5 linked regions of the Homo sapiens genome follow. The protein of the gene in region 2 interacts with the protein of the main gene of each other region in a pairwise test. Each region holds a gene or a part of one and is shown on either strand. Other genes may lie near its edges.

Region 1 (6,346 bases), on a different chromosome or scaffold from region 2:
TTGATAGTCACATGCTTTTGATTGATTCAAAAGTCTTCATCAGTTTCTCCACTGTTGACCTACTAAATAGCAAACTTCTTAGCTTGGCTTTCAAGACTATCTCCGAACTGACCCACATTCACCATCCAGGGTCCTGTGACCTCCATAAACCAGTCCTCCAATCTTCTCATACCCTTCCCATAGCAGAATTGCTTACCATCTACTCTGACTTCTTCTCCTCACGGAAAACACTGTCCTTCCTTTTCTATGAGTCTTCAAGATCCATTTCAGTCCTAAAACATTTCCTGAGCATGGTCATCCACACTAAGTATCCTCTTCTGTGAACTCTGTAAACAACTGTTGTCTAGACTAGGGTTTTTCAAACTGCACTCACATTCTCAGGGAGTACTTGGCCAGTACAAGTCAAGCTTTTGGTGTTTTTGTAAAACTACTGATTATATATTCAAATTTGGCTTAGTATATTATTTCCAAGCCCAGTTTCCTTCTTGTCTTCTTCCAAATTACATCCTCATGCTATGGTGGTGCATTTATTCGTGAGTACAAATTAAGACTCATTAAAATTTGTTTAGCTACCTACAGATAGAGAACTGCTTATTATTACTGTTATTATTTAAAACCATGACCACCGGGAAAATATCAATATGAAGAGAGAAGTTCTATAACAATTTCAACAGTTTCTAAGCCAAATATGCTTTCTGATTTATTAATTCCTTATCCTCACCATTTTTTCCTTATCTTCATGCGGGATTTTAACTAGAAATTGGTATAAAATTTGTTATATTGGCATAGTTCGAAAAACAATCACTGTGTACCTACTCTCTCTCAGGAACAGTGGAAGATGCTTGCGATACAAAGATAAACAAGCCCCTATACGAAGAACAAGAATGTTCCAGATGGATTCAATGTGGAAGGACATTCTAGGCAGGGGGAACAGCAAATGCAAATCCATGTGTCCTGGAATGAGCCAGACATGCTTCAGGTTCCATGGAGTTTTTTTTTTTTTTTTTTTTTTTTGGATTAAAAAATTTGGTGACTTTTCAAAGTTTGACAACCTCAGGATTAAACAATTTATCGAGCCCCTCTGCCATCTCACTCTCCATGAGGGCAGTCCAGGTTGAGACTCAGATACAAATCACCTTTATTGAGTTCTGCTGGGATGGACAGGTCACTTCATGTATACGTAGATCCTCTCCTTAATTCTATTTAAATCACTTAGGTGACTATCACCATCTCCCATCAGGGTTCGGTGACCTGCCCACAGCCTCCCAAGTAGAAAATGATCCAGGGAGCATGTGAGTTAATGATACATCACATCTGGAGCCAGGCAGGCATTTCATGGGTGGGGATGAAGATCTTCCCTCCAATTTCAGAAGTCTGACCTTGCAGGTTCTGAAGTAACTATATACATAAATATTTATAAGGAGAACCCTTTAAGCAGAGGGGTGACCATTTATCCATGAGAGATGGCTTAGGAACGGATTTGGGTTTTGGAGAGCTTCTCTAGCTCCTCCAGCTCCGCAGCCTGTCACACGCAGGATGACCTTTTAGAACAACTGAGTGCTCCATTACACTCCTCACTTGCGGATTCAAACTGTCTCTGGGCAGGGTCCCAGTTTTGCCTGTCCAGGGACACTGTGCACTTGGGTTGACTTTGGTAAATGTTTGAGTAAGGGATGAGTGAATAAATTCGGGGAGAGGGGTTGTTGAGGGAAGGCCACCCCTGGCTCTAAAGACTTTCCAGGGTTTATGGGGTGGCCACGCCTGTCCTGGATCCCCATGGTGCCTCTGGATGGGCCATTTCATCCTTCCTCCCTGTGGCCTCCACATCTTACAACCCAGCCTGGAGGGAGGGGCCGCGCAGCCCCGAGGGGCCAGGTCTCCCAGGCGGCGTCCACTCCCCTCGAGGGTGGAGGAGGTAGGTGGGGACCCCGGGCCGGCGGGGCTCGGCTGGGGCCCCTTCCCTGAGGTCTGCAGCCGCAGCCCTCTACCTGGCTCCCCGGCCGCCCCTTCGCGGCCCCAGATCGGGCGCACCCGGCGGGCACCTGGCCCGCCGCCCCCCGGGGGCCCCGCCAGCTGCTCCCGAAGCCGGCCCGGGGTGGCGGGGCGGGCCCGAGCGCTAGTCGACTCTGGGACCGGTCCCCCGGGGCGCGGCCGGGCAGCAGCCCCCGCCTCCCCGCCCCGGGGGCCGGGCCGGGCTCCCGGGGGGCGGGGACTCGCCCAGTGGCAGCAGCGTCCGGGCCGGCGGCGGGCGCCGGGCGGCTTCCTGCAGGCGGCGCCGGGGCGAGCCGTTGCCGGCTGCAGCCACCGCCGCCGGGTCGCCGGGTCGCGGGGGCCGCGGCGCTCGGGCCGCGTCCGTGCCTCCCGGGCGCGCTGCGCGGCCGTCGCTGCTGCCCGCGCTCGTGCCGCCGCCGCCGCCGCCGCCGCTGCTGCCGGTTACGCCAGCCCCGCCGCCGCCCGCTCTGATTCTGCGCATAGGCAGCCCCCAAGCCTGTCATTCTGCAAAAACACAGTTTACTCAACACACCACACACACTCGCACACACACGCGCGCACACACACGCGCACACCGGACCCCGCGCGCACACGCACGGAGGGCGCGAGCGAGCAGACGCGCACACCGGCGAGCCAAGTTCCGCAGCCTGGCATGGCTTCTGGGGACCTTTACGAGGTACGGGGACGCGGGGGCGCGGGCCGGCCCCAGTCAGCGGGCGGCGGCGGGCGGCGGCGGCGGGCGGCGGGGACCGGGCCGGGGCCGGGGCCGGGCGCAATCCGGAGTTGCCGAGCCCGCGGCGGCGGCGGCGGCGGCCGGAGGGTGGCGGGGGCCGGGCGCGCCTCCCGCCCGCCGCCCGCCGCCCGCCGCCTCCCGCGGCGCCCGCGCCCGCTCCCTCTTTCTCTTTCTCTCGCACACACACTCTCTTACTCCATCTACTTTGCGGCCTTGGAGGGGAAGGAGGAAGCCGGGCGGAGCCGGGGCGGGGGAGGTAGCGGTCCCGGGGAGGTGTTTCTCGCCCGACGAGCCGCCTCGAGTACAGAAAGTACAGGTAAAAGTCGGCGCCGGACGTGCTGGGAATGCGGGGGGGCGCGCCGCGGCCGGCGGGGGTGTGGGGCGGGGGTTGCGCGGCCCGGCTGGGCCGGGGGCGCGGGGGAGGAGGGGGGCGGGCGATCGGAGCGGAGCCTGGCCGGGGCGAGGCGGGGTCCCGGGGGGCTGCGAAGGGGGAGGCTGGGTGGGGGTTCGGGGGGACAACCGCCAAACCGCTCCCCGGGGTCCCCGGGCCACCTCCCTCACCCCCCACCTGCTGCCCCCGCACCAGCTCGGACGCCCTCCGGGCTCGGGCGTGGGGGTGGCCCTTGCGGGTGTCGTGCTCCCTGGGGGCGAAAGGGGGCGCTGCGGAGGGCCCTGGGTGGGAGGAGAACGTGGAAGTCTGAGGTGTTGGGGACATAGGACACAGATGCCAGCCCAGCGCCCAGTACTCTCGTCACCCTCAGTGGATACCTGGCTCCAGGTCCTAATGAGTAGTGGCCAGCGTTGGATACTCTCATGTCTTCCCAAAAGTGGCGAAGGAAGACATTAGTCTGGCATCTTTCAAACAATGGAGGAACACCCATGGTCTTTGGGGAGCAAGGGCTTAGGAACACAACTGTTACTGCTTTGGGTTTTCCACAAGTGGACAACACAAGGAACAGCCAGCCACCACTCCCCAGAGGGAATGGCCTCAGAGGTGTTGGCCGCCAAGACCAGGTTCAGGATAAAGAAGTTAAGAGACCAGCCATCTTCAACCAGAGGGCCTTCTGGGCCTCCGTGAAACCAGCCGCATGGGTTAGCCTGGACCTGCACTTCCCGGAACATAAATTGGTTAACGCCATCTGGTTCTTAAGGCTTTGGGGCTCCATTGAGATAAGCACCCAGAAGGGGTAGAATTAGCCTTTTGCATAAGACATTGTAGGGTGATCCACCCACGACAGACTGCAGGGGGTGATTCCTAAGAAGCTCTTTCCTCTAGGCCCTCGTGGGCAGTTGAAGCTTTTTCAGGTGGTGGGTTTGCTGACTGGCGTTAGAGAAGAAGAATGGAGAAAGGAGCACAGGTCTCCTGTGTGACCATGTTCTTGTGAATGATTCTGGAGTTGGTGAGGCCCAGGCCTGGACTGCCGGCCAGCAGGTTCAGGTGGGGTGGGTGGGAGACCTTAGAGCTCCTTGAAAGAATGGTGTATGTTGCCCTCTTCACTACCCTGTGGCCGTCCTCATCTCTATGCTAAGAGACAAGGTGAAGTTGGATAGAGATCTTGTGAAGAACTTCGGCAAATGTGGCCAATGGATCACCCAAGCGCCTTGGTCTGTTTCAAGATGGTGGAACAATTTCTGAAATTGAAAATTGAAGCACAGTAAAATAGAAGGTTTGATTGAGTTTCCTTATGTGTAACCAGTACTGTGGGGACATTGGCTAAAAGTAGATATTGTTTAGGGGTGAAAGTGATCTGGTTGGAATCATGGTTTTCTACGAATTGAGGTTGAGTCAGCTTAGAGCTGTTGACCTTGCCTGAGTGAAAAGTTGTGTCTTGAAGGTGTTAAGAGGATGTACTAGGAGTCATCAGTATTTCCCCATTTAAAGTTTAGAACTTATGAACCTTCTGGGGATAATTTCTTGTTTAATGTTCATCTGCAACTGCCCTCCTTAACGCTGGTAATTGTCGTTGCCAGATTAGTCTGTTAAGAGGAGAGTTTTCACGGTGGCCTTGGAACTATCTTAGTATCTCAAGAGTTTTTATAGAATTTCAGTTAAGGAGGACAATAATAATAATTACTTCTGTGATAGTAGGTAATTGTACTAGATGGAAAATGGCTTTCCCATGGCTGATTATTTGCATAGTCATTACTAAAAGGGCTAAATTGCATTACGAGAATATAACGAATGTCAACATTTTTATAGCCTGTGTCTACATTACATAACATATACTGAGAAATTTAATTTATTGTTCAAATTTAGCTTTAAGAACAATTAAGAAGTGCTAAGTGTACATTAGCATATATATTTCTGACTGTAAAGTTGTTATGTGGGTAAAAAGTAGCATATTGATTTAAGAAAAATATTGGAATATCCAGTGTATGTTGACTGGCCTTGAAAGGAAAAAAAGAAAACAGATTTCATTCTAAATTATGAGACCTGTTTATTACTTTCATTAAATATTATACTAAAGTGTACATAAAATGGCTTCTCGCAATCTCTACTCAAGAAACCACGTTTTTAGTGGGCCAAGAGTTCTTACGTTTGTAATTGATATATTTCACCTGTGTGTCTGCTGACATTATCTTTGAGCCTTTATGGTGAAGTGTGATTTGGATTGTAGAGATTCTTCATCTTTTCTTTGGCATTTCAGACAATTAAGTTGTAAAGAGTGAACCTCCATAAAGCAGTTGTTAGGAATAGGTGCTGATTTTTAAAGACACCAGAAAACGAAAACTTTGTTTATGTAATAGCACTCTTCAATCATAGTGAAGAAATAAGAAATCAAGCTCAGGTTCCAAAATCTTGGATCTTGATAGATAGTTCTGGTTTGTTTCTCCTGTAGTGGAGTTCTCATCATCTTCTGGTGCATTGTAGCCATCACTTATAGGAAGGTGATTTTAAATTTTGGGTTATGTCTTAGAGTCAGGTATCTGTCTGGATCGAAAGTGAAATTTCTTAGCCAGATGCCCTGGTCTATATTCGGCTAAACATAGGGGCCATGGAGTGGCAGCCTGTGAGCCAGGTCTAGGCTGCATACGCATTTTGACTTGGCTCAATGGTAGATAAGAAAAACGATTTGAACACTTTTAGATGGAGCATATGATCTCTAGCTTGTCCCTGTCCCCTTGCTCCCTATTACCAGGCACCCATTCTTCTTAAATCATTCACTGGGCTCCAGTAGACTTTAGAGTTTGCAACCTGATTCTAGTCAATCTTTTGCTAAGATGTTTGGGTGTCAGGAAGAAATAATCAGTGGGATAGGCTCTCAGTTTTCTTGTCTCTCTCTGGGTTTCTACCTGCTTGTACGTTCAATTACTTGTTGACTGAATCAGTGAGCAGAAGACTGGTTTAAGTATATAAAGTACCCTTGTGTGACCTTCGTTGTCCTTCTGTTGAGTGTTACCCTCTATTGTCTTTTTCTTTCCCAAGCTCATGGCCTCTTGGTGGTGGTAAAACCGTGTGTAGGGGTGGCTCAGTTCTCTCTCTGTAGGGAAGTGTCCACAACTATCCATTTTTTTTTGGATCTTTTCGGTTTGTGGTTGGTTGAATCCACAGATGTGGAACCCATGGATATGGAGGGCTGACTCTATCTGCACCTGGCATTCTGCAAAATCACGCACCAC
Region 2 (4,900 bases):
TACTGTACATGAAATGGATATGTTCCTCATTTGATTCCTGATCTTGAGCAAACTTCATTTATTCATTTAACATGCATTGAGTGTCCAAATTCACTAGGTCATAATCTGACAGTAATTATTTATTCCCCATGACCATTCATCATTCCTCTCCCTTCTCATCTTGGAGAAATCATTTTTCTTTTTTTTTTTTTTTTTTTTTTGAGACACTGTTCTGTCATCCAGGCTGGAGTGCAGTGGCACAATCACAGCTCACTGCAGCCTCAACTTCCCCAGGCTCAGGCAATTCTCTCACCTCAGCCTCCCAAGTAGCTGGGACTACAGGCATGCACCACCACGCCTGGGCTAAATTTTTGTATTTTTTGTAGAATTGGGGTTTTGTCATGTTGCTCAGGCTAGTCGCGAATTCCTGGGCTCAAGCCATCCACCCACCTCGGCCTCCCAAAGTGCTGGGATTATAGGCATGAGCCACTGCACCTGGCCTCTTTTTCAATTTTCCTTTTTAGTTGACACTTTTTTTTTTTTTTTTTTTGAGACAGTCTTGGTCTGTCGCCCAGGCTGGAGTACAGTGACGTGATCTCAGCTCACTCCAACCTCTGCCTCCCAGATTCAAGCAATTCTCCTGCCTCAGCCTCCTGAGTAGCTGAGACTACAAGCATGTGCCACCATGCCCAACTAATTTTTGTATTTTTAGTAGAGACAGGGTTTCCCCATGTTGGCCAGACTGGTCTGGAACTCCTGACCTCAAGTGATCCGCCCACCTCGGCCTCCCAAAGTGCTAGGATTACAGGCGTGAGCCACCATACCCGGCCATAGTTGACACTTTTTTATATCCACCCAGTTCTTCTAAGTCCTCTGTGGTTGTGGACTTGCCACAAATAAGAGAAAAGAAGTTATCTGCTTCCAACTCCTGGGCCACCTGCCTTCTCTCCTATCCCTACCCCCTTTAAGGAAGACTAAGACAGGGTGTCTCCTTAATCTTCAGACACCATGATGCTGGGACCAGGGTTGACTCTAGGTGAAATTCTAAGGTAACCAAATTAGTATCATCACCCTCCTCCCTCCAGGAGCCCACTGTCACCCACCACAGCCTTTAGTATCCTTCCAGAGGCCTCTGGCTGCCTAGACTACTCAACAGTGACCCCTCACTCCTGGTCCAGTACTTTCTAAGCCATGCATACTGAGTCCAGGATCCCAAGTCACCCCTCCTCCTAGGGAATGGAATCACATGGTAACAGACCAGAATCTCTTCTGCTGTCTCCATGGTCCAGATAGAGCAATGCGATTTGGTGTGGGCATGACTGAGAAGACTAGTAGGGAAGGTCCTTTTCATAGAATGCTGGCCTGCTCCCGAAGACACTGCTCATGGAAGAATGGATAGAGTCATTAGTGCTGCATTACTCAAGGGACACCCCACGCCAGTGCTTAGACACCAGCAAAACTGGGGAACTGAAAAATAAAAGAAAAAATTAGAAACAGAATTTGATAGTTAATCTATATACAATATATGTTTTAAGTATAATCATGTTGAACTTTAAATGTTTCATGGCTTAATATTTTCATTCTGATTACATATGAAAAATGGGACACCACAATCTTTTCAGAGTTTAGAACCTTTAAAGTCTTCATCTAGTCTTGGTTAGGTGGAAGGTCTCTTCCTGGATGAAACCTTTCCTGATCCCTTGCCCAGGTAGTACCATTACTCCTATTTGGAGCCTTCTAAATGTACCCTGATTAACTTCTATCACTCAGCTTACCTAGTCTTTCCTTGCTTCTGCATTGCAAGTCCCTCCAGGGAAGGTCCTGGGTTTTATTCATCTTTGTATCCTTAGCACCTGTGCCTGGACTATAGTAGGAACTCAATAAATGGCTGATGGGATTAATGAAGAGATCTTTTTCTTTCCACAAATAGACACACACAGTTTTTCTTTTCTTTCTTTATTTATTTATTTATTTGAGACGGAGTCTCACTGTGTCGCCAGGCTGGAGTGCAGTGGCATGATCTCGGCTCACTGCAACCTCAGCCTCCCGGGTTCAAGCAATTCTCCTGCCTCAGCCTCCCGAGTAGCTGGGACTACAGATGTGTGCCACCATGCCCAGCTGATTTTTATATTTTTAGTAGAGACGGGGTTTCACCATGTTGGCCAGGATGGTCTCCATCTCTTGACCTTGTGATCCGCCCGCCTCAGCCTCCCAAAGTGTTGGGATTACAGGCGTGAACCACTGCATTCAGCCTTAGTTTTTCTAGTAATAGAATTAGGTCTTACAAAAAAAGGCCCAGAGATCCTTTTTGGGCAGCTTCCTGTCCCCAAGACTATTTCCTTGACCTCTCCAGCATAGCAGTAGACCATAAAAATGGACACAGGGTGCTGAGAAGCAGCTGAACCAGACGAAATGATGATTCTTATTTTGGGAGGTTTCAATCTCTTTGATAATCTAGCAAAAAACAGATCCTTTCCCCAGGAAAATGCACATTCAGACACACAATTTTCTAGTTTGGTTCCTGGACCACTTGATTGCCTCCCTTCCCTGGGAGGCTTCCCAATCCTCTCCACCCCCCAGCTTCCTTCCCACTCCCAGGTAAAGAACCCCTACCCTAGAGGCACTGGGTTCTAATCAGTATTCAGAGTGAGGCCATGGTCAGCTGCCCTATCCTCCCAGTGAGCCCATTCTTGTTCATTCTATAGCACCACTACTGCCCACTCACAGCCAAACACCTGGGACCTCCATGGAAATGGCATACGCTCTGAGAATAGCGAAGTTTCACCAAGGGGAGGAGGAGAAGACAACAGGACAGTTAAGCAAACAAAAAACAAACCACCTGAGTCACCAGAAGGGGAACAAGCCTAACTATTCAGCTCCTCTTCTGGGTGGCTGTATCTCCTCATTACCTAGTAAACTGCCACCAAATGTAAGAAGAAATAAATAAGAGTCCAAGCATTTATTTTATTACCAAAAACAATTTGTTAATAAACACGCTCAATGCCTCCAATCCTGTCCCTGAGGATAATCATGAAAGTCCTTGGGGTTGTAGAGGAAACCTTAAGAGGAAAATGGCTACTTGGTTATCAATGCCTTGGCTGGTGACAAAGAAAGGACCCTTGCAGGGACCAGTCACATGCCATCCTTGGGCCTAAGGAGCCCGAAAGATGGGAATGGATGTGAGCTAAGGATTTAATCACTGTCAAGCAGATCTTGAGGGTTATGGTTAAGCCTGATAACAGCCTCTTTAACAAGAACACACACATCCAGGATCCCCTCAAAGAATCCAGAGTCCTCAGGCTCCCCACAAAATGTAGTCTGGCAGAAAAGGGAAGTCTTTAGAGTCTGCAGAATGATGCAAACCCAGGCCAGAGTGGACCACACTGCTCTCGGCACCACTCCTAAAGGCATCCATTGGCAACGGCTGCCCACTAGGGGCACTGCCACTTGCCTGGCTCAAACTTCAGGACCTGGGGAAGAAATGGTCTGGCTCTGCGGCCTTCAAACCATCTGGATCTCTGGCTCCTCAGCTATTCCTTGAAGCTTTTCCATGATGCCCCCTGAAGGTGGCTCAGGGGCTGGGGGAGGCTCCCCTGGGGCTTCAGACAGCACATAGTAGACGATCTCTTGCTGGCCTTGGGCATTGGTCTGATTCACCACGTGGATGACAGAACTGGGGTTGTCCTGAGAGGCTGAGAGGGCTGTCCCTTCGCTACCCTTGCCCTCCTCTTCCTCTTCCTTACGTCCTGGCTCCCCTGGCACTGTTTCTAGAATAATGCCCTGCAGGCTGCTCTCGTTCAGCGACGTTCCCAGGCCCGATCCCTCTTGTGGTTGCCGCAGCAGTTGCTGTGTCAGCTCTACACTCTCGTAGCGAACCAGCTGCAGCCGCATATAGCCATCTTCATGTTCCTTGTACCTGGTGAGGTAGGAGCATAAAGGGCAGCAAACCCAGGCAGGGGGATACAGAAATGGCCGAGGCTGGCAAAGTAAGGAACAAACATGAGGGATGGAAGAAGTCCTGGAATCCAAGTGACAGGAGTTGAAGACAAAAAAGGTCTTTATTGGAATATGTAGAAGAAAAGGCAAGAGGGAAAGATCATTACTCAAAATGGAAAGTTTTATATAGAAACCCAACCAGAAAAACAGAGACTGACTGACTGTGTTGGAGGGTGAAAGTGTCAAAGGATTTATGAGAAGGCCTTGGAGCTAAGGATCAGAACCCTTAGACTCTAGCTCTAGTTCCAGCTGCAGGACTTTTTGGCACCATTTATTGGGTTTGGCACCATGCCTTACAAGATTCAAAAAACAGAAAAATAAGCTTTGCTCCACCATTATTCTTAGGATTCTTTGAATCTAAATGGAAATGGCAGACATAAAACCACCATCAAATTAAGGTTTTATTTATTTATTTATTTATTTTTGAGATGGAGTCTCGCTCTGTCACCCAGGTTGGAGTGCAGTGGCATGATCTCAGCTCACTACAACCTCCGCCTTCTGGGTTCAAGTGATTCTCCCACCTCAGCCTCCCAAGTAGCTGGGACTACAGGCATGTGCCACCATGCTCAGCTACTTTTTGTATTTTTAGTAGAGACGGGGTTTCACCATGTTGGCCAGGCTGGTCTCGAACTCCTGACCTCATGATCCGCCCACCTTGGCCTCCCAAAGTGCTGGGATTACAGGCGTGAGCCACCGCGCCCGACCCAAATTAAGGTTTTTAAAACTGGTTGAAAAGGTATAAAAACAAGTGTGTTAATCTGGGAAGGAGGGTTGAGAGACATACCGAAAACGGGGATGCCCTGAGGGCCACTTGAACTGGTGCTTCTTGCGAAGGTGCACGGTGAGGTTGTTGCCCCGTGTGAAGCATTTGTCACACACATGACATTTGTACCTTGGCTCAGAGTCTCCCTGATGGGGAAGGAAG
Region 3 (5,910 bases), on a different chromosome or scaffold from region 2:
TGCCCTATGCGTGTATAACATCAGTGTTGATGCCACCTTTTTAACTTACTTGCCTTGAATCCCTAATGTGTTGGTTCCTTTTCTTAAGTCAGTCTTACCCTCTTTTGTTCCTTTTCTTCAGATTCTAATTGTATTTTTCAGTGTTGTTACATTGACATTTTTTTCTTCATCCATTTTTTACTTCTGACATTTCATTAATTACTGCTAAGATTTGAATGTTTGTCTTCTCCAGAATTCATGTTGAAATTTAATTTCGTTAAGTATTAAGAGGTGATTAGGTCACGAGGGCTCTGCCTTTGTTGATTGGATTAATGCCTTTATAAAAGGTTAGGTTTTGCCTCTGCCCCTCTGACTTCTGCTATGGGAGACCTCTGACTTCTGCCATGGGAGGAACTCCGGAGGATGCAGTGTTCAAGGTCTATCTTGGAATCAGAATTGCCAAACCTGCCAGTACCTTGATATGAGACTTCCCAGCCTCCAGAACTGTGAGCCAATAAATTTCTTTATAAATTACCCATCTTGTGGTATTCTGTTATAGCAGCACAAACGGACTAAGACCTTTCCCATGAATGGTTTTCTTTGTAATACATGCCAGTGGTTCTTAAAAACTTTTTTTGGAGTGTATATTGTAGATCCTTTAAAGTCTGATTAAAGACTGTCTCCCTAGGATTTACAAATACATACACATTTGCATTGAATTTCAGAGCTTTTCACTCTGAGCTTGTTAATGGATTCCAAACTAGAACCTCTACTCTGCATTTATTTTCACATAAGTATGTTTAGACTTAACCACTCTTCACAGTCTTAAGCTTTTATCTCTAATTGCTGGCTGTATATCTGCTTGGATCGCTCATCTAAACTTCAAACTAATTTCTGAAAAGAAGTGTTTTCTGGATTCACTTATTTTAATTTCATTTCTCCAAATTATGCTGGCTTGAAATTTTTTGGCTTCTCCTTCCTCCCATTCACTTAGTCATGAGGTTCTCTCTTAATAATCCTTACTGACATTGCTTAGTAGGGGGCTCACACTCCGTATCTAAATGATTGCAGTTTGCTTCCTAACAAATCTGTTTTTATCTCTAGGCCTTTCTCCCTTCCAGTTCTTCTGACATGGATGCCCAGCCTTGTTTGTATCCCATTGCTTGATCAAAACCTTCAGCATTCCCAGATAATAAATTGCATACTTTTTAGCTTGCCTTTAAGAAAGCTAATGATTTGCTTTAAATTATCTTTTCCATTTATATCTTTCTACTTTTTATATGAGTCTTAATTTCAGCAAAGCTGAACTTTCGTGATTCACTGTCATTTTTTTTTATTGTTTCTTTTTTCTGAAACTTTACTGTTTCTTTTTTCTGAAGATTAGTAGTGGGCACCATTTATTGAGTGCTTACTATTAATATATGTTAATTGTTATACATTCATTGTGTGCAAGATAGGTGTTAGGAAGATGAATTAGCATACTTTATTCATAGCTAGTAAGTGATGGAGACAGGATCCAAAAGAAGACATTTTGATTCCAGAGCCTTGTTGTATTATGGTGTACTGTCTTTATATCCTTTCTTTGTGTTGAAGTCAAAGATCAAGTGTGATTCCAGTTCTTCCAGAAAGCTGCCTATGATCTATCCAGCTGGGTGAAGTGACTCCTCCCACCATGACTCCTCTCTCTCAGCACTGGTTTCAGTTGTCATGACACTCATCACTTGTACATTAAATTATTTAGTCGTGTTATTTTAGCTTTATTATTAGAGTCTCAGGCCCTTGAAAGCAGACTCCAGCTCTTAAGATTTAACTATGTTCCTGTTCATTATATACATTATCTAGCACAATGCTTTGTGTGTAGTATATACCTGATTATTAAATGCGTTAGTTGAAATTTCAAGTTTGTGTACCTAAAACCAAGGGAAGAGGCAATAATTTGGGTAAAACTATAGAATCTACCCAACTTCAGAACAGCAGATATGTGAGCTATTTGAAGATTAAGTAGTCTTTGGGTCTACTTCTTTCCATTTTTACTCCTAGCATCTTCAGTTTAGGTAAAGCTTAAGTTCAGATTTTTTTTTTCTTTGAGAGGGAAAGGTCATTGAAGTATATTAATATTTACTTGTTAAAGTATTATTGAATGTTGCTATGTGCAAGATTGCTGTCTCCATAGAGCTGCACATAAAAGAATTATAGTAATTCTAACCTGATGAATTTTATAGCTGGTAGAAGAGTTAATAGTCTATAATTATTGGTTAAAACATTTTTCTTTATTTCTTTATCCCCTTAACTTGTGATAAATTGACTTTCATAATCACATTTTGCTGCTGCAATCTTATTTGGCCTTTCCATCTGAATGCTGAGTGGTTAAAATGCATTTAGCACTTTTTTTCTGTATGTTTTAGCACTTCCTTATCTTTGGCTGACAGTGCTTCTCAAAATTATTTTACATGCTTAAACTGAGAGATAGGGACTGTATTATGAGCAAAATGTAAAATATTCCCATGTTAGTTATGTACATAACCTAAGCTTGAGAATGACTAACTGAAGCTTGAGCTAAATAGCTTGTAAGATTTTTTTCCCTCTTCTTGCTTCCTTTGTGCCAGAGAAAAGAATGAATGAGAGAAATGAATGAATGGTAAGCTGTTCCTACTAGACTTACTCATTACTCTCCTACTACTTTATTTCTGTGGAAAAAGTCTTTTCAATTTACATGCAGTAACTTTGAAATAGGTAAAAGTTTATTTTTAACTTAGGGTTTTATTAGTATCTTTTATGTGTGTATTAAATAATGGAGTAAGTTCAAGATCTGTTACTTAGTGATTCTTCTTGAGATATTTTACCTATGTAGAAGCATTTCTTTTGTTATTTTTTTCTGCGACATGTTTTACAAATGCTTTTAAAATTTTGATTTTCTGATTTTTATTGTTAGTATATAGAAATATATTTGTATATTGACGTTGAATTCTGAAATTTTACCAAGTGTACTTATTCTAGTAGCTATTTTATAGATTCTGTGGAATTTTCTTCTACCAATCTCATCATCTATGAGTAATGACAATTTTCTGATTTTTATACCTTCATTTCTTTTTTTTTTTTTTTTTTTTTTTGAGATGGAGTCTGGTTTGTTGCCCAGGCTGGATTGCAGTGGCGTGATCTCAGCTCACTGCAGCCTCCACCTCCCGGGTTCACGCGATTCTCCTGCCTCAGTCTTCCGAGTAACTGAGACTACAGGCACGTGCCACCACACCCGGCTAACTTTTTTTTTTCATTTTTAGTAGAGACGACAGGGTTTCATCGTGTTAGCCAGGATGGTCTCGATCTCCTGACCTCATGATCCGCCTGCCTCAACCTCCCAATATACCTTCATTTCTTATCATGCTGGCTAGAAGCAATAGTACAATGTTGAAGTAGTAAGAGTGGACGTCCATGTCTTGTTTCCAGTCTAAAGGGAAAGAGATTAAATGTTTCAGTATTACTGATATTGGCTCTAGGTTTTTAGTAACTGCCTTTTACCAGATTGAGAATTTTTTTCTTAATTTGCTTAATATTTTTGTCATAAAAGGTTATTGTTAACTTGGCTAACTTCTTATTTCTTTTTCTTTTTTTTGAGACAGAGTCTTATTCTCTCACCCAGGCTGGAGTGCAGTGGTGCAATCTCGACTCACTGCAACCTCCACCTCCCAGGTTCAAACGATTCTCAGGCCTCAGCCTCCTGAGTAGGTGGGACTACAGGCGTGCGCCACCACCCTTGGCTAATTTTTCGTATTTTTAGTAGAGGTGGGGTTTCACCATGTTGGCCAGGCTGGTCCTGAACTCCTGACCTCAGGTGATCTGCCTGCCTCAGCCTCCCAGTGCTAGGATTACTGGCATGAGCCATTGTGCCTGGCCAGTTCTTTTTCTCCATCTGTTGAGACGATCATACAGATTTTCCCGTTTTTTTGTTAATATGGTGTATTACATGGATTGCTTTTCAAATATTAAGCCAATCTTGTATTCCTGAGGTAAACCAGGCTTGGTCATGTTATATTATGGTAGATTTGATAATATTAAAACAAGTGGAAGTATTCTATCCTCCGTTTTTCTGAAAAAATTTATTTAGGGTTCTATTTTTTTTTCCTTAAAATTTTTGGGATCCTTCACCAGTGAAGCCATCTGGGACTGAAATTTTTGTTGTGAGGATTTTTTGGTTATAAAATCAATGTCTTTAATAGGTATAGGGCTGTGTAGGTATTTCTGTTTCTTCTTGTGTCACTCTTGACAATTTATGATATTCAAAGATTTTTCTGAAGTTGCCAAATTTATTGACATTGCATTGTAACCTTACTATTCGTTTAATAACTAGGATTTATTGTGATGCTTCCTTTCCCCTTTTTAATTATACCTTTGGTTGCTCTTTTATTTTCTTAATCAATTTTGCTATTAGTTTTTCAGTTTTATTCAGCTTATTAAAGAACAATGTTAACTTTTTTTTCTATTTTCTATTTCAGTGTTTTATTTTTATGATTCCCTTTTAAAACACTTTGGGTTTAATTTGCTGTCCTTTTCCTCTTAAAGTGGAACCTAGGTCGTTGGTTTTACACCTTTCTTTCAGTTATTTTATGATATTGTTCCATTGCCACCGTCCTCTGTTGTTTCTGGTGAGAAATCTGCTGTCATTTGAGTCTTTGTTCTCCTGAATGTAATGTGTCTGTTTTCCCCCTTTGACTACCTTTAAGATTCAATTCCTTTTATTTGGTCAGCAGTTTGACGATGATAGGCTTGTCTGTCTGTGTTTATGTGTTTTATCCTTAGATTTGCCAATTTGGATCTGTGTTTTGGGTCTTTCATCGGTTTTGGAAAGTTCATTGGTCACTATGTCTTCAAAATTTTTCTGCCCCATTTTTTTTTCCTCTTTTTCTGAGACTTTATATTTAGTTCCTTGTATGTTAGATTATATGATATTATCCTGAAAATCTCATGTATGTTTTAAAAAATTACTTTTGTCCCTTTGCTTTTGATTTGGATACTTTTTATTTTCCATTTTTTTGTTTGTTTGTTTGTTTAGAAACAGTGCCTCACTCTGTTGCCCAAGCTGGAGTGCAGTGGCATGATTATAGCTCATTGCGGACTGGACCTCCTGGGCTCAAGGGATTCTTTTGCCTCAGTAGCTGGAATGGCAGTCACACACCACCACACCCAGCTAATTTTTTAATTTAATTTTTATTTTTTTTTGTAGAGATGGGGTCTCACTATATTAACTAGACTTGTCTTGAACTTCTGGTGTCAAGTAATCCTCCCAATTCAGCTTCCCAAAGTGCTGGGATTATAGATATGAACCTCTTCCTGTTTTCAAGTTCACTATTGTTTTTCCTCTACCGTTTCCAGACTGCGAAGGAGAGTTATTTCTGATTCAGATTTTTTATTTCTGGATTTTCCCATTTGGCTCTTTTTAATAGTTTCTGTGTATTCACTGAAGTTCCCCACCTCTCCATGCATGTTGTCCACATTTTCCAGTAAATTCTTTAGCATTTTTATCATTATTGTGAAGTCCCCGTCTAATCTATTATCTGGACAGTCTCTGAGTATGTTTCCATTGACTGTTTCGTCTCATGTAGATCACATTTTCTTACTATTTTGTGTTCCCTTTAGTTGGTTTTATGCTAGATCTTTTGTGTAAAAGGACTGTAGAGACTGAAGTAAATAAGATTTATTTTCAGTAAGGGGGCATGCCTTTTTTTTGTTAGGCCACTTGAGTGGAGGCTGAGTCAGTTGCCCTGTAGTCTGATTGGTTCTGGGCTTTGTAACAACTTTCGTTTGATTCAGTTCACCATTGGCTTCAAATGCTTTGAGGGCAGAATGAGAATTTTCCCTTTGGGGCTGGGTGCCGTGGCTCACACCTGTAATCCCAGCACTCTGGGAGGCCAAGGTGGACGGATCACCTGACATCAG
Region 4 (6,424 bases), on a different chromosome or scaffold from region 2:
AACTGCGGATCCCGGATTCCCTTATCACCCTGTTGATTTCTCCATAGCTGTGGTAACATTTGTTGCATGAATGGACCGTTGAAATAGGGCCTGGCAGGGAGAAATTCAGGAAATGAATGAATGGTTCTTCCCTGGCAGCCTTGATGACTTACAAGCCCTCAAGGGGAAGCATTTTCTCCTGGACTCCTTGATGCCGGAGCTGCTGGTGTTTCCCGCCCAGACAGATCTGCATGAACACCCACTGTACCGGGCCGGACACCTCATTCTGCAGGACAGGGTAGGCAAGAGGAATAGAAAAGGGAAGAATGTGTAGGCACGGGAAGGGCCTAGCCTGGGGTCTCTGTTTACCCGGCCCCTGTGTTCTGCCTGCCAGGCCAGCTGTCTCCCAGCCATGCTGCTGGACCCCTGCCAGGCTCCCATGTCATCGATGCCTGTGCCGCCCCAGGCAATAAGACCAGTCACTTGGCTGCTCTTCTGAAGAACCAAGGGTGAGTGCCACAGGAGGAGGAGGAGGAGGACATGGGGTTTGATTTTGTGCCTTTCAGTGGGTAATAAAGGCTGAAAGGATGACTTTCGCTTAACTCTTTCCTGCTGTACCAAAGTAGTTCACGGTATTTGCCCCAAGCTAAGCTTTCCCCACTGCAGGTGTGAGATGTGGATCCCTTAGCCCTTGGGGCAGAGACCCCAGGCCAGTTACCTCTGACCCTGGGCCCTTTAAATATAGGCCGTTTCAATATTGTGTGTCCTGGCTTAACCTGCATGTTCTGGTTGTCTGTGTCAGCTGTGACAGGCCCTTAGCTGCTCCATGCATGCTCAGCTCACCCCTGCTCTGCCCTCTGCCCTAGGAAGATCTTTGCCTTTGACCTGGATGCCAAGCGGCTGGCATCCATGGCCACGCTGCTGGCCTGGGTTGGCGTCTCCTGCTGTGAGCTGGCTGAGGAGGACTTCCTGGCGGTCTCCCCCTTAGATCCGCGCTATCGTGAGGTCCACTATGTCCTGCTGGATCCTTCCTGCAGTGGCTCGGGTGAGATGGTGAGAAGGCGTGGCTGAGGGACTCGGAGGTCCACAGCAGCTTAGACCTGGAGTCATCTGTTTTGGTCTTAGTTCTGACACTTTAATGGGCTTGGGACCCTGGAGCAAAAGTTCTCCTCTGTGAGGCAAGGATTTCAGGAGCGAGGATTTCAGGACTGAGGCAGCCTGTGAAGCTGTGTAACCGAGACACGCTTTTCCTTAGGTATGCCGAGCAGACAGCTGGAGGATCCCGGGGCAGGGACACCTAGCCCGGTGCGTCTGCATGCCCTGGCAGGGTTCCAGCAGCGAGCCCTGTGCCACGCGCTCACTTTCCCTTCCCTGCAGCGGCTCGTCTACTCCATGTGCTCCCTCTGCCAGGAGGAGAATGAAGACATGGTACCAGATGCGCTGCAGCAGAACCCGGGCGCCTTCAGGTACAGGGCGGGCGCCAGGGTCGTGGAGGGGGGGATGGGGTGAACTGCTCTCTTACCCAGCATTGGGGCTGTTTCTCTTGCAGGCTAGCTCCCGCCCTGCCTGCCCGGCCCCACCGAGGCCTGAGCACGTTCCCGGGTGCCGAGCACTGCCTCCGGGCTTCCCCCAAGACCACGCTTAGCGGTGGCTTCTTCGTTGCTGTAATTGAACGGGTCGAGATGCCGATGTGAGTGAGTGGGGGCATGCTTGGGAGGCGCAGGATGGTACTGGCACATCTAACATCTACACTTCTCTAGCTCAGCCTCACAGGCCAAAGCATCAGCACCAGAACGCACACCCAGCCCAGCCCCAAAGAGAAAGAAGAGACAGCAAAGAGCCGCAGCCGGTGCTTGCACACCGCCTTGCACATAGCAGAGGCTCCAGGCTGACTCCTTCCTGGTGGGAAAGGAAGATGCCTGTCCTCTCCGTGGAGGACCCTGGGCCCTCACCGCAGGCAGCAGTTTGCATTTTGAAAGGTTATTGGGTCCCTTCCTCGGGCTGTGTTCTTGCTGGTGAGCAAAAGTGTTGCCTGCAGAAATAAAATGCAGAACGTACTCTACGATAGATCACAGTTTTTTATTCTTAATGTCACAAGCAGGAGAAAAATCTCACATTCATACTAAAAATTCCAACTAGACTCAACAGGAATGAAGTCTCTATTTGTAATGGAAAGTCCCAGCCTCCCGCTGCCGTCCAGTGTGTGTACTGTACACATCCACACTCACTCTCACTCAGGGTTCCCGGACCGGCTGTCCTGCCTGCGGAACTGAGGTAAACAAGCTCAGGTACTGACACTAGGAGGGTCTACCTTACATAAGGTACAGGTAGAAGCTTGATTGCTAGGCCCAGGCCCACCCAGACCCTCCAATCCTAACAGGTATTTAGGCTTGAGGTTCACTCCCTCCTCAGCTGCACACGCAGCCAGGTATAACACTCGCCCTCAGTCACAACGGGGAGGGGGCACCGGTTACATCTACATCACATTATTTATAAAATAAGAATTACATTTCATATAACATGGCCAGAAGGAGCTCTAGTCCCCCAGGAAAGCTGCCGGGGACAGCATTTGAGCCTCTTCTTTGCACAGGCATAACTTAACTATACAGCTAATTCCTAGTTAATAGCATTTATACTTAACCACCTCAATGAACCAAGCTTGAAGGAATTTAAAAGGCAATTTAGCTTAAATACAAAAATAAATTTTTGTTAAAAAACGTTTAAATATTTTTTTCTTTTAATTTAGACACACGCATTCATACTTCTCCCAAAGAGGTTGGGCGTGACAGCAAGGCGCTTGGGCCTGGGGTATGTGGTTTCAGAAGGACGGAAGGAAAGGATGGGCTGCAGAGGGCCCTGTTTGGGAAAAATAGGATTTTAAAAATATGGTTCATTAATTTAGGTTTTCTAACATCTACTTTGGGTGACGTAGCCTCCAGTGAGGTCAGTTAAGTGGGACAGAAACCGCAGAGGGAAGAGGTCTTTGCTTCCCCTGGGCCCATTCTCCCTGGCTGCCAGCCCTTGAAGTCAGAACACCATGGGAAAATTCAGGAGTCGGCACTTGTAGCCGTCAAGTGGTGCTACTTTCCACATTCAATTAGCGAGGCCCCAGAAAACTTGAAACAGGAAGTCCGGCACTACCAACATGCCGCCACTCATACAACTCAACTCTTCCTCCAAACTCGATTCAAAGAGCAATACACAGAGCGTCAGACAAAGGAACACAGGACAAGGCTTGAAACATACAATCCTGGAGAGGCAGACGAGGGCCCAATGGGGCCAAAGGGTAGCTGGGCGAGGAGGCAGCTGAAGCAGCAGTGGGCATCCTGCCTGCTCCAAGAGCTTCTCCCTTCACCCCTGGCTCTGCCAGGCTAACAGTCTTGAGCCACCAAGCTCTGAGGGGCCAAACTGGCAGAGGGTTGGAGATGAAACATTGATTCAGGCTTGGCAGGAAGAAAACGGCAGGAGCAGCACCCACTGGGGTCTCCAAGGCAAAGCTAGATTCAAGGGCATTTAAAAAGGAGGGAATCCTGCAAGGAACCGGTGAGGGACACAGCAGCAAGAAATGGGGAAACAGAGTCCCCAGAAGGGACCAGAGGAAGAGAACCACTTCTCACAGCTAAGCCAAGCAAGATAAAGCTTTAGGGATAACCCATTTCCCAAATCCCATCAGGTGCACACCACCGATCCAGGCGGGCTGGACCCTGCCCCCTCCAGCGACGACGGCTCTCGGGGAAAGGTGGAAGGGGCGCCTGCCTAAGGGTGCGCTAAGCGGGAGTCAGGGCAGCGGACACTATGTACAGGTCCTTAGTTCTCCAGCCTCCCCAGTGGAACTGTTCAAGTAGAGGTCCCGGGCTTTGGCCCTCCGCATCCTGCTTCCCCTTCCCTGAGGCTTGTGCTTCCTCCAGAAGGGAAAGGGCCCCAGGGCTGCCACTGCCCCCTGGCGGCTGAAGCCAGAGATCCGGGGTAGGTTTGCTTTACGCAGCTGGAAGGGTCCAAGGCTCTTTCTAGCACGTGCCAAGGTCCAGATTTAGGGAAGGGGTGGGGGGAACAGGGACAGGGGACAAAGGCTACTTTTTGCGGGTGTGCTGCCTTCGGGCCTGCAGTCGCTGTCGAGCCCCTGGGGTCTTGGATCCCGCACCAATGGAAAATGAAGGGGCCGCCGATCCTGGAAAGATTCAACAAGACCTCATCAGGGCAGCTGCTACCTGAGACTCTGGCTCTGGGTGCCCAAATCTCTGGAAGGCCAGGCCAGTAATAAAACACAGGGTGCCTCAATAGGGCTTTCCCCGCTGCGTCAGAAACACTGTACGGGAGGAGCCTCCTGAAATGCAAACTCCCAGAGTCTCAGAGCGAGGCCCACGAATCCATTTTTACCTGGCTTCCCATGGGAGGCAAACTTCCACCCCGGACAGCTCCTCTCTGATCTCTGCCATCCAACTCCCATCCCTGGGCTGTGCTGTACTCCTAACCCGAAATGTCTTTCCTGTGCTGAACCTGATCTTCACGGGGCCTCAGAGGGCCAGGAGCCTGCCACCCCACCCAACCTCTCCTCAGACAGACGAGCAGGGCCACAGGGTGGCTTGCTGCTTACCGAACGGTCCAACACCAACAAAGCCTTGGGCGGGTGCTGAAGATGCCCCAAAGGAGAGGCTGCTGCCCGATGTGCCCACTCCAGGCGCAGGGGTGTTCTGACCAAAGGTGGGGGTGGCGGTGCCTGGAATGAAGAGAACAGAGAGCTAGCCAGTGAGCAGAGGGCGGAGGCAGGCGAGGAGCCGGGCAGGAGCCTGTGCTCTGCAGGGCACTTCCCACGGGACCCTCAGCCCCACTTCTGCTTCTGGGGCACTCCTCCATCAGCAGCTGAGCCAGACAACCGAGTCTTCATGCCTGGTGCCCCAGCTCAGCCTGCTTCTCCCACCCGCTAATGGCCACGCCAGGGCAGAGAAAAAGCCCCCCTGCCCCGCAGCCACCTCGTGGGCCTCCTGACCATCGCTGCAGAGGGGAGTACTCTGGGGCCCCCGCCTCCTAGCGTACCTGGGTTGGCTACCTCCTCTGTTCAGGCCTTTTCCCCCTAGCCACCGTCCCCTCCCCTCTGAAGCCTGGTTTGTCCGTCCTGTGTCTTTTGTGATGCCCCGTGGTCCCCTCCCTTCCCCGGCCTTGCCCTGACTGGCTCTGGCTGCCTGCCCGATGCCCTCTCTGGCAGCCCCTCTGCAGGGATGGCTGCTCTCAGGGCTTGGCCTCCGGCCCGGACAAGGGGAAGCTCCCTGTGCTCCCACGCTGCTTCCACACAGTTTCTCTTCCTTCCCTAAATACCGTAACTCAGGTTCAAATCACTTTAATCTGCCATGTCCTCATGTCACCTGTCAACTGCCAGGTCACTCCCTGATTCACAGAGGACCCTTGGCTCACTGGCTTCCTCCCCATCACCACTCACGGTGACTTCGCCCTGTGGGGCTGACTGATGGTCCTCTCAGCCCCTCGGCCCTGCCACCCCCATGACCTCCTCTCCCCGACCCCTGCCACCACTCCTGCAGCCACACTGTCACCACAACTGCTCCGGCTCCCGAATCTCCTGCAGGCACCACCCCTCCTGCAGCTGACTTCACCCGCTCTCCACTCCTGCACCCCCTGAGCTGCATCGGGGCACTGACCCGCTGCCCCTCCTGCTGTGCTTGCTGGGGTCTCCACAGCCGGGTGGCACCAGCTGTCCGCTGACCTTAGATCTATACCCAGTGTCGCTGGGAAACACACGCCATGCTAACTGGCCTCACTTTAACTTCACAATCACAATTTTCCAGCCCACAAACTGCCTGGAAACTGATCACACTTTTTAATATGATGTTCCTTTCCCCCACTGTCCAAAATGACTATTTCAAAAGACCCCTTTTTTATACACTTTATCCCGACCTTCCCTCTCCCAGATTTTCTCTCCTACTTCACGAAGCAAACAGAAGCCATGGGATCTACATTCATCTTCCACACGGGAGGAACCATCACTGCATCCTTCTGCCTGATTCTGCAATGGTTTTCCTGAACACTTAAGACCCAAACACCCAACCCTGGCCACAAACAATCCTCGCCTCTTGGCCTCCTTCCACACCACTGCTTTAGCTCCTGCCCTCCTGCCATGCTTGTCTTTGTTCTGCTCTTCAACATACCAAACATGTTTCTGCCTCTGGGCCTTTGCATGCGCCATCCTGGGCCTGAAAGGCATGTCCACTTGTGCTGTGCCCACCCCCACCCCACCCCCATATTCAGCTTACGCTTGAGACAGTCTTGCTCTGTCACCTAGGCCAGAGTACAGTGTGGCATGATCTTCGCTCACTGCCACCTCCACCTCCTGGGTTGAAACATTCTTCTGCCTCAGCCTCCCGAGCAGCTGGGATTACAGGTGGGTACCACCATGCCCGGCTAATTTTTTGGTATTTTTAGTAGAGACAGGGTT
Region 5 (5,276 bases), about 83 Mb from region 2:
CCAGAGGTTGCATTGAAATCAGAAGTCATATACTCAGAGGCCTTCAGGAGCCAAATGTGAAGACTCAAGATGGTAGATACTGTGTGAATTAGAAAATACCAAGCCCTGCCTAAATGCATTAAAATTTAATGTTTAAAAATCCTAAAACCCACCAGCAGGTGTATCTGGAGGGACAGTTTGTGGACTCTCCTCTAAATTTTCTTTTAACACATTTATCTTCATCAGACCCTTTTAGTTAGCTAGGGACTGTGTGAGAACCTTGAGAAAATTGTCCAAGAGAGGGAGATAAGTCACTCAAGGTCACCCAACAAGCCAGGCTGGTAAAGCCCAGGACAGCAGACTCTCTGTCTCCGAGAGCAATCATTAGGCCCTACTTCCTCTTCCCCAGTTGCGGAGGACACTGCTGCCTGGTGGGGTGGCACTGCCTGCCACTGTAGCACTTAGGAGTCTTCAGTGTTTTAACAAACCACAATGTGTTTGGAGGTTTTCTTCCCTGCTTCCTGGTGCCAGTATCTCAACACCACATCCATTGCCCCAGCCCTTTCTTGTTTTATCTTTCCCTCTGAAAGCTACAACTCTATATTTTATTTTATTACTCTTTGTTTGGTCCAACATGGCCCCATTTCCTTTATACTCATAAAAAGGTAGAATTTCAGCTTGTCTGGAATATCTCCTGGCCTTCACAAGGCACCAGAGTTAGAGACACCCAACAGAAAGTCGTAATAAGAGAAGATGTCACAGAAATAGAAACAAAAGCAAAAGACTGCTTGAAGTCAGTAACAGACTGCACTAAGTGTCTGTGCTTGTTAACTATTGTAATCTCCAGGTTTAAATCATTCATTTATGTTAATAAGAGCTGTCACTTAGCTCTTTCTCTGGGCCAGGTACTCTCCTGTTGTTTTTCACATTATCATAATAGTAACAGCACCAATACTATCATTCCCCACTTTGTTGCTCAGGAATCAAATTTAGAGAATTAAGTACTGTGACCACGGTTACACCCTAATAAGCGGGAAGCCAGAATTTAAACCCAGGTCTAGCAGACTTCACAGCCTCTTTCCTTAATCTCTTCTCTCCTAGCTGCACTGATTCCATCTTGTATTGGTGAATAACAACACTGATCCCCCTACAACTACCCCCACACATGTACAGTATGGCCTTGGGGCAAAGGAGTTTGCCTTTTGCAAAGAAGGTCTTGCTTTGTATAGCCTGTAAAATGCAATGTACAGTGAGGGAAAGAAAGTCTAAGGGTAGCAGTCAAATCTTCTGGCCTGAAACTGTACTTTTGGAAGGGAGAACTGTTAGACTTGCTTTATCTTCTTTATTCCAAGGCCATAAATAAGAAAATCAACGAGAGGCAAAACCATGTCTTCTTTTGCTATAGCGTTAGAATCCTGAAAGTCAGCCAGCTCTGACACTGAGTCTGTGATTTAATTAAACATGTTGAAGGCTCTCCAACAGCTTGACGTCAGGCCAGCTTCATATTCTTGGAAAGGGACAACAGCAAAAGGAGCTTATCTGTTTTAAAGTTCACTTACTGAGTTCAGCTGTCACGGCCACAGCATACCATTTGCCTTATAAAAATGGCCCACAACCTTCACAATATTTTAGGATTCATGGCAACTCATTTACCTAGGGCTTAGCCACCTGATAGCTTTACCTATCCCTATTTCCTGAACACAAAATCTAAACCAGTGGTTTGACAATGAGTAACTGAGACAGAACTAGAAAAATCTAGAACCTCTGCTGAACCCATCAAAAGTGACTGAGAATTAAGAAGTAAGCAAACAAGGCTTCCAACCAATTGAAATAAATACCATGAAGCAAACGCATAAGACAAAGGCCATACATCTAGTCATCAGGCACCTCCTCAGAACCTATTTGCTCTTCCTTCACACATATTTCTAACTGTAAAGGAAAGAAACAGACTTTTAGAGGAAACAAGAAGGAAAAAGGAGGACAGCAATAGAGAAAATGGAAATTTTGAGTAGACTGCAAAGCTCCAAAGCCCTGATATATGGGTTATTTAGTGTCAAAAACAGTCTATACACATCTCAATCTTTAAGAGCCTCACTGTATCATGGGACAATATTCTATTTAAAATGATGACCCTGTGCACCATACATAAAAAAACTATGCTTAGAAGACAAAAATATGTATATCAAACATTTTAGAAATATTTACATCCCAATGGTTAAAAAAAAAAACTTTTAGGAATTAAAAGGAATAAACCTTTGACCATCCAGAATATTTAGCTAAATCAAACAGTGTATATCCCCCTAGCTGACTTTTATTGTTTCATGAGCCTCTGGTGTTCAGAGAGTTTTTTTCACAGCTTTGTAAGTGACTTTCATGCTACAGTGCTTTGCATATAATGGCATGAACAGTGGAGGTGCCAACTTTCCAATGTGATGAATAAAACTAATAACTAGAATACAGATCAAATTCTGTTACAACAAATACTGCTACCATAAAAGTCACTTAAGCATCCCTGTTAGTTCTAAGCCCCTGTCGATTGCCCATTTATTTTAGGCAATAGTCATTCAACAAAATTGGAGCATAATAAAAAGAAACTGGACCTCAGCGCAAGTTGAGTGTTACACAATTTAACCTGTAATAACAGGTTCTCACTTGTATTTCTCCAGCTCTTTGCTGTAAGAAGAATAAACGTTATGTAGATATAATACCAGCGTGACAGCTTGTGGTTGGTGGTTTCTAGAAGAAATAATTCAGAAGCAAAAGACACATGAAGTTATGTGGCAGTTCCTCACTAGGGAATTTGGTCTCCAGGGCCACTTTTGACCTTAATCCATGTTGGAGCCATCAATCAAAGAATTGCTTGCATCTAATAATGGTGTAATGCCAATACTAAGCCCTGGAACGAAGATAGGATTCATTTCTCATGGATTATTGAGCACTCTGGGGTAACCTGGCCCTGATCTGATGACGCTAAGATTTAAAAACCCAGATGCATGTGACTAGAACTATCTTTTCTCCCATGATGCACTGCTTTCAACACTGCATGACTGTAAAAACATGTGCCACGCTGATTATATATAGAGATGGTCTAAATCAGCTGCATCCCATTTGGTACCCAGGCAAGGATTTTTCCATACCTATCTTTTTGCTGGTGGTAATGATGAGTTTTGTCACTTGCTATAACATTCTCTGTCCGTCTTTTTTCTTTTATGTAAATACTTTTGTGACTTCATTGTAACCAGCATTTTGTAATACTCTTAACAGCAGAGGGGATTAAATCATGATTCACTTCTGAACAGTACAATCAGCAGTAGGAAAACGAGGAGGGAGGGAGAGGGAAATTGTCCACCACTTCCCAATGATAATGCCTGGCTCGGACCCCAGATTCACATCATACTTGAAGTTCATAAATTCTGGGCACTGCTCAGCTTGAGGAGGCAGGCATTGCTCCTTCATATTTCAGGGTGAGACAAATGCTCTGTTGAAGCCATGCCACTACAGGATACATTCACCTCTGCTTGCTTTCCTCCCTAAGCCAGAGTGTAGTTAAACATTTATATGTCCCAGGCCAGGAGATCAAATTAAGAGGAGGTTAGCTACTTTCCCTGGCTCTTAAAAACATTTGAGTCCAAGTATGGTTCTCTGGCTTGAGGGTGGCCATTTGTTGCCTCACTGTTTTTATTAGGACATCTGGAGATTAGAGGTGTTAATTGGAAGTAACTTTTCTATATTTGGTTTCTCTCCACACATTATGAGACCTTTTAGACCCAGTTGGATGGCTGTATCCTAGTATGAAATTCAGCTTCTAAGTAGGAAGAACTATGATAGAGGAACAAGATTGCTCTTTGACTTGGTGATAGTAGGGCAATAGGGAGTGTCAGTAGGGTAGTTTCAGGTGGGGAGGATGACAAACCACTGATAACAATAAAAATGGGTATTTCTCAACACTCAAGCCAATTTCCCATTTGATAACAAGTAGGTTCTGATCTATTTTCCCCAAATTAATATTTTCCCTGGAAGATTCTGACCTGTCTGATCAAATAAAGGCATTCCTCTGAGAGTATACCTAGCCCACTTGTGGCCAAATTATACTTGACTGTTATGTACTCAAAACAAGCTTTCCTGTTAATCTCTTTCTCTTACCTCTATTATGAGGACAAGACGTGGAAGAATTAGGTCACCGGGGCATCTGCCATTGCATATGTTTAAGTGGTATAAAGAAGCCAGGATTCCTAGAATGGTCTGTCTTTTGCCATTTCTGGGACAATGAGAAAATCCATCTGGAGTGTTTATGCCCCTCTGAATAGCCAAGTCATGGGCTTGTTTGCTTTCAGTCACTGCCTTCAGAAAAAGACAATTTTACAATGACTTACTTCTAATAATCACTGAAACAGCCTCATGAGGACATGCAAAACTGCTGTCTATCTTCAGACCTGGCCCATTGTCAAATGGCAGACTTGCAGAGCAAATAAGGGACCTGGCCTAGTTCACAAGGCAGTCAGAAGTGATCCAAAGTTCAGGCTCCCCCTCCCTTTTATCACTCCACCCTGCCTCTACTCCTCCGCCTCCTATTCTTCCGGCCTTTCCATCTGGAAACCATGAGCCTCATGGATTCCAGGCACAAATTCTCAGATTTCAGATGTTTGGGAAATTTCTCAGCTTGGGTCATTCTTCAAGAGTAAGAAATTGAATTTGTGAGAAAAAAAAACAGCTGAGACTGTTTCACAGAAGAGAAAATAAATAAGGTGTGGTGCGTATCCATCCTCTTCCCAACTCAGCTCCAAAACCACACACAATGTCTAACTTCAAAAAGAGTATTTAGATCCCCCCTGGGAAGGAACAGAATGGAAAAACAATCTCCACTCATAAAAACACTTTTCTGCCTTCTACAGTATAAACACAACTGGCATCAGATAATACAATGTAATTGATTTTATGTGTGTAATTGGGGAACAGAAGGGTCTCTAGAGGGTAGACCTAAGAGTAATGGAATGGAGTGAAAAGTAAAATTTAGACTAAATTGTTGGGAGGAAACTGTTAACATTGTGAACCACTTGACCCTAGTGTTGCATCTTCACAAAAAAGAGCAATGTGCCGTCTTCTGTCTTTGGAAAATGGGACAAGCTTGCTCCTGATACTAGGTTTTAGAAGCATACAGACTTGGTTTTAGTACTGGCTTTGTTCTTTACTAACTCTGAACAATTAAATGAGCAGATGGTCTACAGGGCTTAGTACAGTGCCTGACACATAGTAAGCACTTAGAAATGGTAGCTTCTGACTGTTGTGCTGGAGTCCTG

Evidence for each region.
Region 1: the proteins of HINFP (region 2) and CDYL2 interact in a two-hybrid assay, tested with the Homo sapiens proteins (one large-scale study listed by BioGRID).
Region 3: the proteins of HINFP (region 2) and RBM26 interact in a two-hybrid assay, tested with the Homo sapiens proteins (one large-scale study listed by BioGRID).
Region 4: the proteins of HINFP (region 2) and POM121C interact in a two-hybrid assay, tested with the Homo sapiens proteins (one large-scale study listed by BioGRID).
Region 5: the proteins of HINFP (region 2) and TRIM44 interact in a two-hybrid assay, tested with the Homo sapiens proteins (one large-scale study listed by BioGRID).

Annotation. Positions count from the first base shown.
Region 1 is NC_000016.10:80,800,472-80,806,817, reverse strand, and holds the start of CDYL2 (chromodomain Y-like protein 2), read left to right. Parts: upstream 1-2,219; 5' UTR 2,220-2,644; coding exon 2,645-2,668; intron 2,669-6,346.
Region 2 is NC_000011.10:119,133,079-119,137,978, reverse strand, and holds the end of HINFP (histone H4 transcription factor), read right to left. Parts: intron 4,885-4,900; coding exon 4,760-4,884; intron 4,036-4,759; coding exon of another isoform or gene 3,896-4,035; coding exon 3,481-3,895; 3' UTR 1,920-3,480; downstream 1-1,919. UniProt on the Homo sapiens protein: Transcriptional repressor that binds to the consensus sequence 5'-CGGACGTT-3' and to the RB1 promoter. Transcriptional activator that promotes histone H4 gene transcription at the G1/S phase transition in conjunction with NPAT.
Region 3 is NC_000013.11:79,394,860-79,400,769, reverse strand, and holds part of RBM26 (RNA-binding protein 26), read left to right. Parts: intron 1-5,910. UniProt on the Homo sapiens protein: May be involved in the turnover of nuclear polyadenylated (pA+) RNA.
Region 4 is NC_000007.14:75,414,747-75,421,170, forward strand, and holds the end of POM121C (nuclear envelope pore membrane protein POM 121C), read right to left. Parts: intron 4,697-6,424; coding exon 4,574-4,696; intron 4,148-4,573; coding exon 4,050-4,147; 3' UTR 2,040-4,049; downstream 1-2,039. UniProt on the Homo sapiens protein: Essential component of the nuclear pore complex (NPC). The repeat-containing domain may be involved in anchoring components of the pore complex to the pore membrane. When overexpressed in cells induces the formation of cytoplasmic annulate lamellae (AL).
Region 5 is NC_000011.10:35,811,579-35,816,854, forward strand, and holds part of TRIM44 (tripartite motif-containing protein 44), read left to right. Parts: 3' UTR 1-5,276. UniProt on the Homo sapiens protein: May play a role in the process of differentiation and maturation of neuronal cells. May regulate the activity of TRIM17. Is a negative regulator of PAX6 expression.